Regions from separate parts of the Homo sapiens genome. Here region 1 is linked to region 2. Evidence: fine-mapped expression QTL. Tissue or cell type: monocytes after interferon gamma. Region 2 holds a variant in brackets; the other region holds the start of a gene. All regions are shown on one strand. Distances are between the middles of the regions.

Region 1 (8,101 bases), 220 kb after region 2:
TTCCCCAGAATTCCTGGAATTCGGCCCAGTGACCTCGATCAAACTGAGCAGGAGGGACACACAGCACTTGCTCCAGCTTGTCTCTTCTGTGGCCTGATCTGAATCAATATTTGTTTGCTCCCTACTGACTTGTTGCAGCTTCATGCTCTCACAGCCTCTCTCTGCTGGTATCCTGATCTGGGGTTGGAGTGGGTGGAAAGAGACCGGCAGGAAGAATGATGTCACTTGGCATGAAGCACTTTCAGGGTTGGGAAATCCAGGCCTTCAAGTCTGCAACTCAATTTCAGTGTTTTATGGCCCACATATTGTATTTTCAACAGGGCCTGGCCGCCTACAGAAAAAAGTCTAATGTCAGCATTCAAGACCTTCCACACTGTGGACTTACCTACCTTTCCTTAAATATCTTCTATACACACACACATGCATACACGCATCCTGCACAGAAGAGTTAACTGGACTGTTAACTCTTCTCCAAACACGCTCAGCACTTTCTAAGTTCCCTCCACCAGGAACCTCAATCTTAATTAGCTGACATCTGAATGAGTCTTTAGGATACAGGAAATCATAAATGCCGCCTTTCTCACACACCCCTCCTTGCCCTGTGCTTCTGCAGCTTTTTGTGTGTCTGTGCAACATTAGAGTTACATGTGTAAAGTCTGTCTTCCGTATTATCCGCCCACAGGGTTTCCAACTTAACTCCCTCCTGTTTCCTCATAGGTCTGAGCACAGTGCCTGGCACACGATAGGCATTCAATTTCATCTTGGGATGGTTTACACACACTGGGTCTTTCTATATTAGAAAGTCTTTTTTTCTTCTTTTCCAACACACTCTCCTTCCTCAATTTTCTCTCTCCCTCAGACTGGACATTTCGAATGCAGTTCCAGTTCCGTGCATTCAGAGTTGGAGGCTTAAATCACCAACTTCTGCAAATCTTAGCAAAGCCCAGCAGGTCGCTTCAGGGCAGCCTCTTATCAACATATAGCCATGCCCCCCACCTCTGTGCTGTCAGGGATACTTGGACCCTAGCTCTGTCCATAGGACCACATGGGAACGTAACCTACAACTCCTAGCAAGAAGGCAGCAAAGAGGCAGGATGTACGAGTGGCCTTAGGACTCTGATTTCCTCTGAGCTGTGAGTGTATAGCCTGGGTGTGGCAGGGAGACAAAGGACATGGACAAAGGGCTCCATAACACAGTCACTCCCTAGAATAAGAAATTTCTACACCACACCTGGGGTAAAACTCAGGCCACTTGGGTGCTACCGACCTGTCCAGTTGAGCTCAGCTGGATTAAAAGCTTCAGGGTGGGCCAGGCATAGTGGCTCACGCCTGTAATCCCAGCAGTTTGGGAAGCCGAGACAGGCGGATCACTTGAGCTCAACAGTTCCAGACCAGCCTGGCCAACATGATGAAACCCTGTCTCTACTAAAAATACAAAGATTAGCCCGGCATGGTGGTAGGCACCTGTAATCCCAGCTACTCGGGAGGGTGAGGCTGGAGAATCACTTGAACCTGGGAGGCGGAGGCTACAGTGAGGAGAGATCGTGCGACTACACTCCAGGCTGGGTGACAGAGCCAGGCTCCATCTCAAAAGAAAAAAAAAAGAAAAAAAAAAACAGCTTCAGGGTGTACCCTAGAAGGGAGATTTGGAAGTCATCTGGTAGAACCACCCAGAAGGACAAATATGGGCATCTCCTGACCCCTACTGCTGACCTGTCCCTGGAGAAAGTAGATGAGGACTGCCTCTGGCAACAGCAGAAGAAAAAAGATACCAGGCAGTGAATGGGTGGAAAGAATTTTTTTGAAGGACTGGAATTTCCTCTGGTGTGGCCTACAACTAGAATAGGGTGTGGCACCAGGGCAAGTGAAGAGGATTCTCATGTGAAAAAAAAGAGGAACATTCCATTTCTATTTAATTCTCACAATTGAATCTGGAAGGCAGCTTAAGACACCATAATTTTAAGCAAAACTTCCCCGAGGTAGGTAAAATGTGAAGTTTAGGTCTGTGGAACAGCTGGATTAAAGGGGAAATGAACTCCCACCAAGTTTAGAAACTAGTATTAATTTGGGAAAATATAAAGTTTAAAATCCAACAATTCACTTATTTTGTCTCTTTTCCTTCTCTCTCCGCCAGATTTAAGGTCTAAAGAGCAGGGATTTTATTTTTGGCGGGGGTCTGTTTTGTTCACTGCTGTATCCCTAGTGCTCATAACTATGAGTGGAACACAGTAGGTAATTAATATTTTGTGGAATAAATGGTTGTTTAAAGCAGCCCACTAGAGCCTGAGACTCCTTTTGTGACAATCCCGCTCTCCTTTAATGAAAAATGTCTCCGCAGGCTCCAGGCTCTGCACAAGCGAAGGGTGAGAACAAAGGCTCCAGACAATGCATTAGTGCCAGATTCTAGGCCCAGTGGTGTAGGAAGAGCCTACAGCCCTCAAAATCAATAGCAATTATAGAAGCACATCTACTTTGCCAGGAAAACTACTTAAATCAGAAATTAGCCAGGAAACTAACGGCCATGACTGCGAGCCTAATGTCAATCAATACCATAGTTTAATAGCTCAAAGACACAAGATGCTAAATATTGAGACTCCAGTGCAAGACTGAGCTCCTAATCAAAGTCAGTGAGTCAGCAATATTTCCTGGGCATTTACCACAGGCAGTCTAGTTGGCACTGCGGGAAATTACAAAATCTAAACGGTCTCCAAATCACAAACCTCCAATTGTAAAAATGCACATACATGTCACATCCTTCCACTGCAGATGCAAGGGACATTTTTGGACAAACCCTTGACCTTTAGATAATCGACAGACTTGGAAGAAGGGAAGAAATTACTAAGCAGGACTGTGTTAACACTCCTGGCCCTTGCCCATCAAGGGCACCTCTGCTGCCCCAGTCTTACCAAAAATCTTCCTTAATATTGCCTGAATATTGCTGCTTTACATTCTATAAATTATAGATCTGTTTAGGTGAACGAGGGTTTTTTATTATTATTATGTATTTATTTTTTGAGACTGGGTCTTGCTATGTTGCTCACATTGGCCTTGGACTCAAGAGATCCACTAGCTTGAGCAGCTGGGACTACAGGCCCACGACCACGCCCAGTATCGTTGTTTTTTAAATAACAAGACTCCTCTCGGTTGCTGAGGCTCTTAGGACCACCAACCATTCCTAACTTAATGAATATCGATTCAATCTGCTAGTCTCTAGCTGGATGCAGGTCCGCCGAAATGGGAAGGAGGAAGGAATGCAGCGTAACTGGACCGGCCTGGATGGCTGTTGTAATGCGTCACGGAAGAGCCAGAAGAGCGTCTCTAAGGAGGTGGAAGGTGGAAAAAAGAAAGTGGAACAGGGGCAAAGACATAATTTTCCAATTAAAATAATTTACTCAGTGTCAACCTTAAAGCTAAAAAAAGTTCCAGAAAAATATTTCAGTGATTTAGTCTTCCTACACACACATTGCCCCTCACTACCCTCCACCTCCCCACCACCAATCCCATAATCAGGCAGTGCATGTTAAAAAGGTCTTTCAGGGCTAGCCTGGGAACGTCAGCACCTTCTGCAACACTGTTTCAGTGGGAAAGTGCATTCTGCATTCCAAGTCACCAAGTTCCAGACAGGCACAGTAGCACACACGTGTGAACAGAATCCATCAGTACAGTCTGGGGCCCAGGCCTTTGCACACCAACAACTTAAGGTTCTTGGTAATGGCCCAGCGTGCACCCATGAGGCCACTGCTCTTTTACACACGCACTCAGAACACCCACAGCTTTAAAACGGCAATCTTACTACAAAAATGACACTTTGCATTTGCACAGCACTTTGTTTTTTGTGTACTTTACACATTTATTACCTAATGACTGTGTTTTTTGAAATCTCCAATAACTCTGGGTGGTGGTAAGAATAGGCATCCTTAAGCCACCTTCCCAGATGAGGAAACTTATCTGTGTTCCCCTCCTTCTTCTCAACAGCCGGCTGATGGAACCCAAGCCCTCCACACCAGCAGTGGGGCCAGCTGCACAGAGCGGCCAGAAGGGAGAGGCCCCGGGGCCACGCCCTTCTCTCTACTCTCAGTTCCTGACTCATTGTCACATCATGGCGAGTAACAGGACAACCCTCCCCACAGAATCATGGGGGACACTACCTTCCTGAGGCCAATGTGTTCAACCAAGCGGGAAACTCTCCGGGTAGAGTGAAATCCGAAGTTGCTATGCTACAAGATAACCTAGAGCAAGGGGAATAACTGACGTTTTAATGTCTTCTTTTATGGGGGGCTGAGGGGTGCCTACTCACACTCCCCCCTCTCGTCTTCCCCCGCTACTTCCCTCCTGCTGGTCGGTTCAACTCCACAAGCGCGCGTTTGTTTCGAGTACAGTAACTTAGAGCAGATGGGGGGCACTTTCTAGAGGGCAGTGGAAAGCCCACTTGCTACTGCTGCGCCGGGGACCTGCGGCTCCCTGGGCGGCCACGCCCTGCCTCGGCGGCGCCTGGCGCGTCTGGAATGCGGGGCCTCCCTCCGCCCCTCTCCCCACGCCGCCTCGCCCCGCTCCCGCTAGGGCTTCTTAGAGAAGCCCGACCCCCCACCACCTCTGCCCTGCACCCTCCCGGCCCGAGGGCCGGTGGCCCCTCACCCCTGCCCCAAACACCTTGTCCCTGAGCCCCCTCCCCAAAGACTCTCCAGTGCCGGCCGTCCCTTCAGCCCCCTGCCCCCGACGGCCTCCGGGGCCAGTTGCCGGGGCCTCCCTGCCAGGCCGTACCCTTCTTCCCAGCGTCTCCACACCCCGCTAGCTGGCGGCCCATCGCGGGCGGGCAGGGCGCGCCCCGCTTACCTGGGCCGTGCGCCGAGAGCTGAGAGCGTCCCCAAATGCTGAGCAGAGCCGGCTGGCCTGGGTGGGGCTTTTATACCCGCCACATCCTCCCTAGGCGAGGCGAGGCCCGCCCCGCCCCGCCCCGCCTCCCCCTTACACGGCCCGCTCCCACCCCAAGTCAGGGGTGACTCACCCCGGCCCGCCGGCCCGCAGGGACCGCGCCCTGGAACGCTCCCGAGCCGCGCCACGCGGGAGCGGCCCCAGCGCCCCTGGCCCTGCCCTCCGAGAAAGCCCGGCCGAGGCTGCCCCGAGGCCCACAGGGACCCCGTTTCTTCCTCCTTTCCTCATTTTACTTCTTAAGTGCCACGTCGAGCTCTCAGCCTCGGCTTGGGTTAATAAATTAACAAGACTTTAGTAGTAGACTCTGGGCTTGATTAAGTGTTTTTTTTTTTTTTTTTTTTTTTTTGGCGTTAATGCAATGGAGGAAAGAATTGTTCCAAGAAACATAAATCTGGACTCCCCTGAGCTGGGGCTGTTGGCATCCAGCGCCCCATTACCGTCTGCAAACATGTCAGCTTAACCTCTGGCCGCCAGTTCCCGGGGGGCGCCCGGGGAGGGAGGGAGATTCGCCCTGTGCTGCAAAGCCTGGCCCGCCCCGGCCTCCGAGGGCCAGGAAGCCCCGAGCCTGGGCTGGGAGGCCAAAGCCGGGAGCCAGGATCCCACCTCAGTCCCGCCCAGGGTGGCGCCCCTGTCCCTAGCACGGCTGTGCTCCGCTTCTCTCCGCGCCTGGGGCATCTCTGCGCGGCCTCGTAGCAGGCAGTCCTGAGCGGGGTGGGGCCCATAGCTTTGAACCCGGAGTTTCGTGTGTGTGTGTGTGTGTGTGTGTGTGTGTGTGTGTGTGTGTGTGTGTGTGTTTCGAACCCGGAGTTTCAACAAAGAACTTTCCTCTCCTTCTTTCATGACTGCTGGGGTGTGTGTGTGCGTGTGTGGTGTGTGTGTGTGTGTGTGTGTGTTTCTTGCAGCCGTTTAGCCAACTCCCTTGCTCGGTGTTGCTGTTACTCGCTTTTCTTCCGAGAGAGAGAGAGAGAGAGAGAGAGAGAGAGTTTCTTGCAGCACAGAGAGAGAGAGAGAGAGTGAGATAGAGAGTTTCTTGCAGCCAGTTAGCCAACTCCCTTGCTCGGTTTTGCTGTTTCTCACTTTTCTTCCGTGTGTGTGTGTGTGTGTGTGTGTTTCTTGCAGCCGTTTAGCCAACTCTCTTGCTCGGTTTTGCTGTTTCTCGCTTTTCTTCCGTGTGTGTGTGTGTGTGTGTGTGTGTGTGTGTGTTTCTTGCAGCCGTTTAGCCAACTCCCTTGCTCGGTTTTGCTGCTTCTCGCTTTTCTTCCAAGAGTCACGTTGGCAACGTGCAGGCAGACACCTATTTGTTGTATGTGAGACGACGCAAATACTGTATTCGAACCTCAAACTAACAGGAAAGCGACGCTGAGAATCCCGAGGATCTCTGGCTGCGTTTTTTAAACCCCTCCTTGCACACTACTTCCTGCAGCTCTTTTTCCTGGTTTTGATGATTCTGTGTTTCAATCTCCCATTTATCTTAACATCCATTTTTACTTTCCATTTGAGCGTCAATTCACTCCTGGGAATCAGAGAATGATAGCAAGGCCAACAGACATTCAGTGCTCTGCCCACTCGCATAGAGTGACACAGGCAAAGTCGGCCACAGCTGAGGTCTTTTAACCCGCCCAAAGCTTTCTGTTACCCAGCGCTTTCACGAGGAATTATACGCGATGGGCCCTACCACAGAGCCAAATAGAAAATCAAGCAACACTTTGGGTACAATTGCTGATTTACATTTATAGCTCTTCAATTTAGCCTGAAAGCTTCAAAGTCAGAAACAATGTTTATCTGCTTACTTTGTGTGAACATTTTGGAAGGTTAGGGGAACACAGGCAGACAGTAATATTGGGCACGATTCAGCCTCCCTTCTGTGTATCTCAAGATAGGTTCCACAGTCTCTTACTCCTAATCGTGCTGTGATAGGCCCTTTACAGAAGATAAAATTTAATTCAAATCATGTGGAATATATAAAAGCCATCAAATGTCCAAAAGAGTTTTGTGCTCATCTTGGGCATGCCACAAATTCTAACTTCTATAGATTTGTACAATCACCAGTCTTTGCATCATGCTAAAGAAATGTGCACTGATGTTATCATAAAAATGAAGCTATTAGAAGTCATAGTTTGCTATTTCTGAGGAATGTGAGGCCAGTTCTTCCAGTATAAAAGATCTTTTATTAGTCAGAAGACTCTATTTTCCCCCCTGGTTGAGGAGAATGTTTACATCAGCCCTCAGATTGTCTGCTGTTGTCCATATTGCTCTCTAAGTGCTTGACTTTGTTTTGTTCACACTTCATCTGCTGCACTCAACACCTACTAGCGCCTAGCTAGCAATGATAGGCACTCACTAAATGTGATAGAATGATAAAATACAATTATTCACTGAATAATAGAATGTTAAAGCAGGGAGGGACCCTAGAGATTAAATTGCCCTATCCTTGATTTTTACTATTATTATTCTTATATCTTTTAGTTGAGATCTCACACTGTCACCCAGGCTGGAACGCATGGCATGATTAGGGCTCACCGCAGCCTTGACTGCGGAGGCTCAAGAAATCCTCTCCTCTCAGCCTCTTGAGTAGCTGGGACCACAGGCCCACGCCACCAAGCCTGGCTAATTTTTCTATTATTTGTAGAGACGACAAAGTCTTGCTATGCTGCTCAGGCTGGTCCCGAACTTCTGGGCTCAAGTGATCTGCCTACCTTAGCCTCCCAAAGTTCTAGGATTACAGGCGTGAATTACTATACCCGGCTCTTGATTTTTACATATGAAGAAATTGGAGTCCAAATAAAATCTCCTGCCCAGTCCAGGGATTAAATAATGCACCCAAGGCCCTCGTATCAGTTACCTTTGCAGTATAACAAATTATCCCCATAAACTTAGTGGTTAAACATAACCATTTACTTGCTTGTAATTCTGCAATTTAAGCAGGACACCCAGTGGGGACAGCTTGGTGCTCCTCCACAGCATGTTGGGTTGGGTAGCTTAGTTGGGGTTGGAAGATTGAAAGCAGCTTCATTCGTCTGGCGCCTGAGCTGGGATTGCTAGAATGACAAAGAGCAGGCTGGGCCTTTCTCTTCCTTGGTCTTACATCCTCCAGGTTCTCCTCTTTTGCTACACCACGGTAGTCATGGCAGCCAGCCTTCTAGAAGCAAAAGCTGAAGCTGCCAGGCCT
Region 2 (8,105 bases):
TATTTATGGATTCTAACCGTCCTGACCCTCTTTTCAACATAGCTGTGAATATCAATGACAGTGTTTAACACATATACATAAAGAAGGTCTATGTAGGGAAACCAGAGTTTGGATGGAATTCAACCAAAAGACACCCCCACTTGGTTTCAGGACCCTCCCTTCTAAGGAGCCAATTTCCAATAGAAAGCAACCAAACTTTAAAAAAAAATCATAGAGTAACCCATTAAATATTTCACAGAAACTCATTAAAACATTTTACTATTTGCTCTGATTATCATGTGGCTGCTTATACAGATGCCCATAAATCTGACTGCATTAGGTTCTCAGGCCTTTATTTCAGTTAATTTCTTCTCCCTATGTGGACTTGCCCAGGAAATGAGATTTAATGAGTCATCGTCCTCCCTGATAATCACAGGAGAGCTCATTAGCTTTTTGTCAGATTTGTACCAACTATCTGCCCCCAATATGCCTATGACTTCTTTTGAGTTAAATATGATATTACCAAAAGGGAGAACTGAAAAGAGCATTTCTGTACTGAATGCTGCAGACTTGAAACACTATATAAATATTTTTACATATGTTAAAAGGCATCTGAGAGCAAAAGGTAAGAAAATAACAAAAATACAACATTCCCTATTGATGGCATCACTATTTAGATGACACACATCATTAAAAAGAAATAAAGTTTGACATTTACATGTTTGGAAGTCTTTCTAAATCTGTTTAAATGCCTGAGCTGAGTCAATGCAAATGCAAGTTCAAAGAACAGAAGAAAACAATCTAATGGTTCTTAAAATTCGTGAAGTTTGAGGAGTTCTCCATCATGTATGTTAGGATACTTCACCAAGGTCTCCCAATCTCCTGACCTTCCGTTTTCACTGGAAATAACAAAAGGCTCTCATGTCACTTCATGGGAAAGGGGAAATTTTTACACTTCCCCCAAAGAAAAGCTTGAAGTAAACCTTCCATACTTTCATGGACCACCTTAGTGATAAAGTTGACTTGGCTTTCAGTAAAATTGCCCATAAAGGAAGATATGACAGTGATGGTAAAAACATCAGAGTGATTTTCTGAATTCTCATTTGAGTCCCTCAAGAGGTTACCATTTCCCTTCTAGGTACAGACAGAGTTACCTGGGCAAAGGTGTTGCTCCTGCATGGCTGAGTGACCACCACGGACCAGGGCCCAGCTCTTCATCAACATTTATTGAACGTTTGCAATCTACTTATCTGACAAAGGGCTAATATCCAGAATCTACAATGAACTCAAACAAATTTACAAGAAAAAAACCCCATCAAAAAGTGGGCAAAGGATATGAACAGACACTTCTCAAAAGAAGACATTTATGCAGCCAAAAGACACATGAAAAAATGCTCATCATCACTGGCCATCAGAGAAATGCAAATCAAAACCACAATGAGATACCACCTCACAGCAGTTAGAATGGCGATCATTAAAAAGTCAGGAAACAACAGATGCTGGAGAGGATGTGGAGGAACAGGAACACTTTTACACCGTTGGTGGGACTGTAACCTAGTTCAACCACTGTGGAAGACAGTGTGGCGGTTCCTTAAGGATCTAGAACTAGAAATACCGTTTGACCCAGCCATCCCATTACTGGGTATATACCCAAAGGATTATAAATCATGCCGCTATAAAGACACATGCACACATATGTTTATTGTGGCACTATTCACAATAGCAAAGACTTGGAACCAACCCAAACGTCCGTCAGTGATAGACTGGATCAAGAAAATGTGGCACATATACACCATGGAATACTATGCAGCCATAAAAAAGGATGAGTTCATGTCCTTTGCAGGGACATGGATAAAGCTGGAAACCATCATTCTCAGCAAACTATCACAGCGACAAAAAACCAAACACCGCATATTCTCACTCATAGGTGGGAATTGAACAACGAGAACACTTGGACACAGGAAGGGGAACATCACACACTGGGGCCTGTTGTGGGGTAGGGGTAGGGGGGAGGGATACCAATAGGAGAAATACCTAATGTAAATGATGAGTTAATGGGTACAACACACCAACAGGGCACATGTTTACATATGTAACAAACCTGCACATTGTACACATGTACCCTCGAACTTAAAGTATAATAAAAATAATAATAAAAATAAATATTTATTGAACTAACCAGGGGCCATAGAGCCTATCTGGAATGCATAAGATTATGCAGCTCTATAGTCCTTAGATTGAAACAAAGTCCTAGATTCAAACATCAGTGCTTCTGAACACTTTTTGGGTGGCATATCTTTTTCAGAATCTGATGGTAAAAATGGACTTTTGCTCAAGAAAAATGCACCACTCCACTACAAATGCACATACACACAAAATTTGGGGGACAGTTTCAGAGAGTTCTCAAACACTGCAATCTTATTTCTAGCCTTGCTTGGGGTTCCTGGACCTAAGATTAATCCTCTTATACAGATGACAATATCAAGGAATGTAATTAAAACTACTACTCATTGAGAACTTACTACATATCAGGCAATATTATCTCATTACACTCCCACAACAACCCTAAGAGGTACATCTGTTATTAACCACATTTTACGTATGAGGAAACTAGACAAAGATTTAAATTATAACAGCTTGTCAGAGGCAGAGCTGGAGCTTCAAACTCAGTGCGCCTCTGGCGTCTGTGCTCTGAGCCTCTAGAGTCTGCTGCCTGTCCTATAAAACATATTTTTATTCTAAAGCATGTTCACTTCTGCTTTCTCATTTAATCTTTGTAACTACCCTATAGTTACAAAGATTAGATTGTGATCTGATCTACCTAAGCTAATTCTAGGAGTTAGATTAAGTAGATATCTCCACTTTAGTAGGTGTTGAGGGCATTTCCAAAGTAGAGCGAGAGATTTGCTACCCACAGTCTTTTCAGACAACGAAGTCACAGTTGATGAAATTAAAAATTAAAAACCAAAATTCTGACTTGAGCCTTCTTTCTCCATTCACTACAGGTTTAAGCACTCTAGGAACACCATCTAATTTCTTTATTCATAGCCATCCACTGCCTTGAGGACTAAGTCAGCACGGTAAGGTTTTGAAGCCATGTGGTGATTCCTACAAAAACCTGGCTTCCTGTGGTTCGCAGAGCACAGTTTTGTTTCTACAAAGGCAAAGGCATAGGGAAGAACAGACAGAGGAGAAAAGTTGTCAATCTGCAGAATATAAGAATGTTTAATGTGCATATGATCATGCTGGACATTAGATGCATGGCCTTGTCTTTATATAGAACCCCAAATCTAGTTGAAATGTTAAAATATTTTTAAAACATTTAACCCTTCCCTTACCTGAACTCTACCTAGCATTCCTCAGTGCTCAGCTGTTCCCATTCCTCAGTGAATTTCTCCCTCCTGAAAACCTCTATCAGCTTGTACTGCCCATTCTGCACAAACATTCAATGTCAGTCATTTGTCCTGGCTTTCTGCTCCAGTGAAATGGCAGACTGCACAAACACAGCTTCAATTTACTTCTAAAAGCGCAGAGAAATACAGGGGGAAATGTAGCAAAAAGTTTCTGAAACAGAACCAAACTTGTAAGAAAAAATGAGAAAGAGAGAATAAAATAGAAATTCCCAGGTACAAGAAATGAGGAGGAACAACAGCCAGAGCTGCCATGGTGTCATCTGTGAACTCACGCTCTGGGGACTCAGCAAGGTGTGGGTCTAGATTTGGGCCATAAAGACCAGGGGCTGGGGTTGAAACACCCATTCAGCAACAGGAGAGGTGGAGAAGGCCTACGCAAGGTGGGGAATTAGAACTGACAACCGGCTATGAAATCAAGATCCTAGAAGGCACAGCAAAAAGGGAAGAGAAAGGAACTTTGTCTTTTCCCAGATCCAAGTGGTAAAGAAAGTCAGTTATGGGAAATCAAACCCCCAAGTCTATTTGACCATGCAGGTGTAGGGTCTAAACTCACATTATCCACCTGTAAGGAAATCTCAGTGAAGAAATTAAAGTAAAAACTGGATGCATACCAATAAAACCACTGAGATGCCCATCATAAGAAATGTAAAACTACTCTGTAGAAACATTTTCACAACCCCAGGAGCATGGAACATCCCCAAGATGGAGAAAACTCCTGCTAAGCTAATACTTAAAAGAAAAAAATTACAAATCACAAAAGAAAATAATTCTCTATAAGAAAGAGTAAGCAGATATAACAAACAGGAAGGTAATACACTAATAACTTAAGATAATAGAACAATCTGAAACCAGCAATAAAAATAAGTATATTTAAAATAAGTAGGCCAGGCATGGTGGCTCACACCTGTAATCGCAGCACTCTGGGAGGCCAAGGTGGGAGGATCACTTGAGTCTAGGAGTTTGAGACCAGCGTGGTCAGAATAGTGAGATCCTGTCTCTACAAAAAATTTTAAAAATTAGTCTGGTGTGGTGACACATGACTGTAGTCCCAGCTACTCGGGAGGATGAGGTGGGAGGATAACTTGAGCCTGGGA[G/T]GTTGAGGCTGCAGTGGGCTGCGACTGAACCACTACACTCCAGCCCGGGTGAAAGACCAAGGTCCTATCTCCGAAAAATTAAAAATAAAATAACTAAAGATATTAAAGAAAGATTTGAAGCCACGATACAAGAACAAGACACCCTATAATAAAAAATACATTTGGAAACAAATCATGTCATACTTTTGGAAATTGATAAAACACAGTGAATTTAAAACTAAATAAATAATGTATTAGTTTCTTAGGGCTGCCATGACAAAGTGCCACAAATTGGGTGGCTTAGAACAACAGAAATGTATTGCCAGAAATGTACTTTTAGACGCTTTTTTAAACCCAAAATCAAGATGTTAGCAGGGTCTTGCTCCCTCCCTCTGAAACTTGAAAGGAGAAGTTCCTTCCTTGTCTCTTGCAGCTTCTTCTAGCCCCCGGAGTTCCTTGGCTTGTTGCAGCAAAGCTCCAATCTTCACATGGCATTCTCCCTATGCCTCTTCACATAGTCCTCCCTCTGGGCATGCCTCTGTGTCCAAATTATCCCTTTTTATAAGGACACAAGTCATAGTAGATTAGGGCCACCTTAACGACCTCATTTTAATTTGATTACCTCTGCAACAATCCTATCTCCAAATAAGGCCACATTCTGAGATACTAAGATTAGGACTTAAATGTAACATTTTTGGAGGACACAATTCAATCCATAACATAACAGATACAACAGAAGAGAATCGATGAAAGGAAAGATAAATCAGGGAATTAACCACAATGCAGCATAGAAAAATTGATAGGAAATATAAAAGCTAAAAGTTATGCAGAATAGAATAAAAAGATTCAATATACGTTTCTTAGGAGTTCCAAAAGGAAGGAGTAAAAAGGATGAAAGAGAAGCAATATTCAGTGAGATCATGGGTGAGATTTTCCAGAATTTATGAAAACAGATCCGTAGATTTAGGAAACACAGAAAGTAAAGCAGGGCAAAGAAAAATCCACAGCTATATACATCCTAATGAAACTGCAGATCTTCAAAAATAAAATCTTAAACAAAGACAGATGAACTATAAAGATTAGGTTGGTGACAGATTTTTCTTTTTTTCTTTTTTTTTTTTTTTTTTTTTTGAGACGGAGTCTCAGTTTTGTTGCCCAGGTTAGAGTGCAATGGCGCAATCTCGGCTCACTGCAACCTCTGCCTCCCAGGTTCAAGCGATTGTCCTGCCTCAGCCTCCCAAGTAGCTGGGATTACAGGTGCCCGTCACCACACCCAGCTAATTTTGTATTTTTAGTAGAGACGGGGTTTCACCATGTTGGTCAGGCTGGTCTTGAACTCCCGACCTCAGGTAATCTGCCTGCCTCAGCCTCCCAAAGTGCTGGGATTACAGGTGTGAGCCACCGTGCCTGGCTGGCAGATTTGTCATCACCAAAATTAAAAACTAAAACAAGAGTAATCAGTGCTGGTAGAAATCTGGATAGTGTTTAACTGCTGGGGGACTAGCGGCTGGCAGGGGCCATGAGGGAGCTTCTAGGGTGCTGGCCATGTTTAGTTTCTTGACCTAGTTCTGATTACATTTCCTTGTTGATTACATGTGCTCATTACGTGTATCCATGATGGGTGTGCTTTTTCTATATGAATGCCATAATCCAATGAAGATTTTTTTTAAAAAGAGAGACCAGAAGACAAAGGAATAATGCCTTCAAAGTGCTGAGGAGAAAATAAGTCAGCAAAATTATCACTCAGGTAGATTGACAAGGTAAAGATATTACAATCAGATAAAGATTGTGAGACATTACTGTTCACCACCTTTGCTGAAAGAACCGCTAAAGGATGTATTGTAGGAGGAAGACAATTGAACCCAGAATGAAGGAATAGCATTGCAAGGAGCAATAGTGAGGCAAGAAATTGTGAGGCAAATCTAAAAAAAATACTCACTGAAAAATAGTAAAGATGACAAAGTTTTAACCAAGGAAGAATCAAAATCCTAGGGGAAAAATATCCAAGATGGTGAGAGAGACCTTTGGGTACAAAGTTTCTTGTATTATTTGAGAGAAGGGAAGAAGTATTGAATTTCAACTCTAAGTATATGTGTTAAAAATTGAATGGCCACTAAAAAGTAAGAAGTAGATATATAACTTTCAAAGCAGTATGAGGGGGGTGGGGCATAAAGAAAATTCAGTCTATCTAAGGGAAGCCAGTGAAGGAGGAAAAAAAAAAAAAAGCCAAGAAAAGTTGTTGAATAAAAAGTCCAAAGAAATTATGGCTTAAATCATGAATGGACCAAGCTAGTCAATTAAGAATAGATATTCTTAACTTTTTCTTTTAGAGGCAGGGTCTTGCTCTGTCACCTGGGCTGCAGTGCAAGTGGTACAATCATAGCTTGCTGCAGCCTTCAACTCTTGGGCTCAAGTGATCCTCCCACCTCAGCTTCACAAGTAGTTGGGACCACAGGCACAAGCGCCAGTGGCTGGTTAATTTTTTAAATGTTCTTTTTTTTTTTTTTTCGTAGAAATGAGATCTTACTATATTGCCCAGGCTAGCCATGCTAGCTTTCCTCCATCTGTCTCCCCCTCCTCAGGCTTTCCTATTTCCTGGCTTCAACCAATCCCCCTGCCTTGGACTCCAGAAGTGCTAGGATTACAGGTGTGAGCCACCACACTTGGCCTCTTAAATTTATAATAATTTAGTTATATGCTGTTTATAAGAGACAAGTATGAAATACAATGACACAAATAAGTTGAAAAGAAATGATTGGAAAAACATGTATGAGTCAAATCTAATCCAAAGAAAGTTTTTAAAGACTAAGATTAGAAAAAAAAAAAAAAAATAAGGGGAAAAATTCTTATTAGAAGAAGAGTCATTAGTATATGAGGAAAAAAAAGGACCAATTCACCAAGAAGATATAACAATCATGAGATTGAAAGAACCAAAGAACATTGCCTCAATCTATATGAAGCAAAAAATTTAGCTGAATTACAAGGAGAAATTGATCAATTCTCCACAGTGCTGGGAGATTTTAACATTGGTGCTTTAAATCTGATGAGTCTACATTTCATCTCCACAATCAAACTGTAAGGTTCTTGAGGTCAGAGTGCGTGTCTTATGCCATGTTCCCCCAATATATGAGATGCATTTCCCCTCCCTCCCAAAGTATCTGAACATATAAATGTCCCCGCTCATATAAATGGTTAAAAGACAGTGCGCTATAGGCAAGTGCAAAGCACAGAAAGTATGTACTAATAATTTATTACTGATAGTAGACACTTTTTGTAACAAGTAAGACTATTACAAGTAGAATAATTAATGAAGACATAAAATAATGGAGTCAAGAGAGAGAAAAGAAAATTGTCCCTATACTTCTTTTGAAGCATTTATGAGACACCAGGTTCATTTCTTAAATTATTCAAACTACTGTATAAACTAATTGGAAGATCATGTATATTCATTTTAAATGGGAAAAAAATGGACCTAGAAAGAATTTTAAAAGTGCAAACAGAATTTGCATTTGGTGGATATAAGACAGTAGCAATGATACTACCCCCTAGTGGCAGAGCATAGCAACCCCAACAGGATAATGAAGGTATGTGTTGTATATCCCATGGGTCATTTTCCTAACAAAAGTATTAAGCTGTAAGA

Direction of the effects. Alleles are on the strand shown, and positions count from the first base shown. SD is a standard deviation of normalised expression in the study named.
With allele T in place of G in region 2, the expression in monocytes after interferon gamma of the gene that starts at base 4,877 in region 1 is lower (large effect, 1.2 SD a copy in Fairfax 2014).

The links. PIP is the estimated chance that this variant, and not a neighbour inherited with it, causes the effect.
Region 1: it holds the start of ANXA2, and the variant in region 2 is fine-mapped to the expression of ANXA2 in monocytes after interferon gamma (Fairfax 2014, PIP 0.95).

What each region holds. Positions count from the first base shown.
Region 1 is chr15:60,393,110-60,401,210 of GRCh38, forward strand. It overlaps ANXA2 (annexin A2), which reads right to left and starts at 4,877. Exons shown (of 13, transcript NM_004039.3): 1 at 4,834-4,877. RefSeq lists enhancers at 1-829, 3,223-3,814, 3,815-4,406, 3,900-3,949, 4,010-4,059 and 1 more and silencers at 4,430-4,569, 4,640-5,179, 5,300-5,609.
Region 2 is chr15:60,171,973-60,180,077 of GRCh38, forward strand. The region is part of intron 1 of LOC105370839 (a long non-coding RNA gene); the gene reads left to right. Among named protein-coding and RNA genes, the nearest start is that of FOXB1, 170 kb to the left of the region's middle. The variant G/T (reference allele first, on the strand shown) is at 4,487.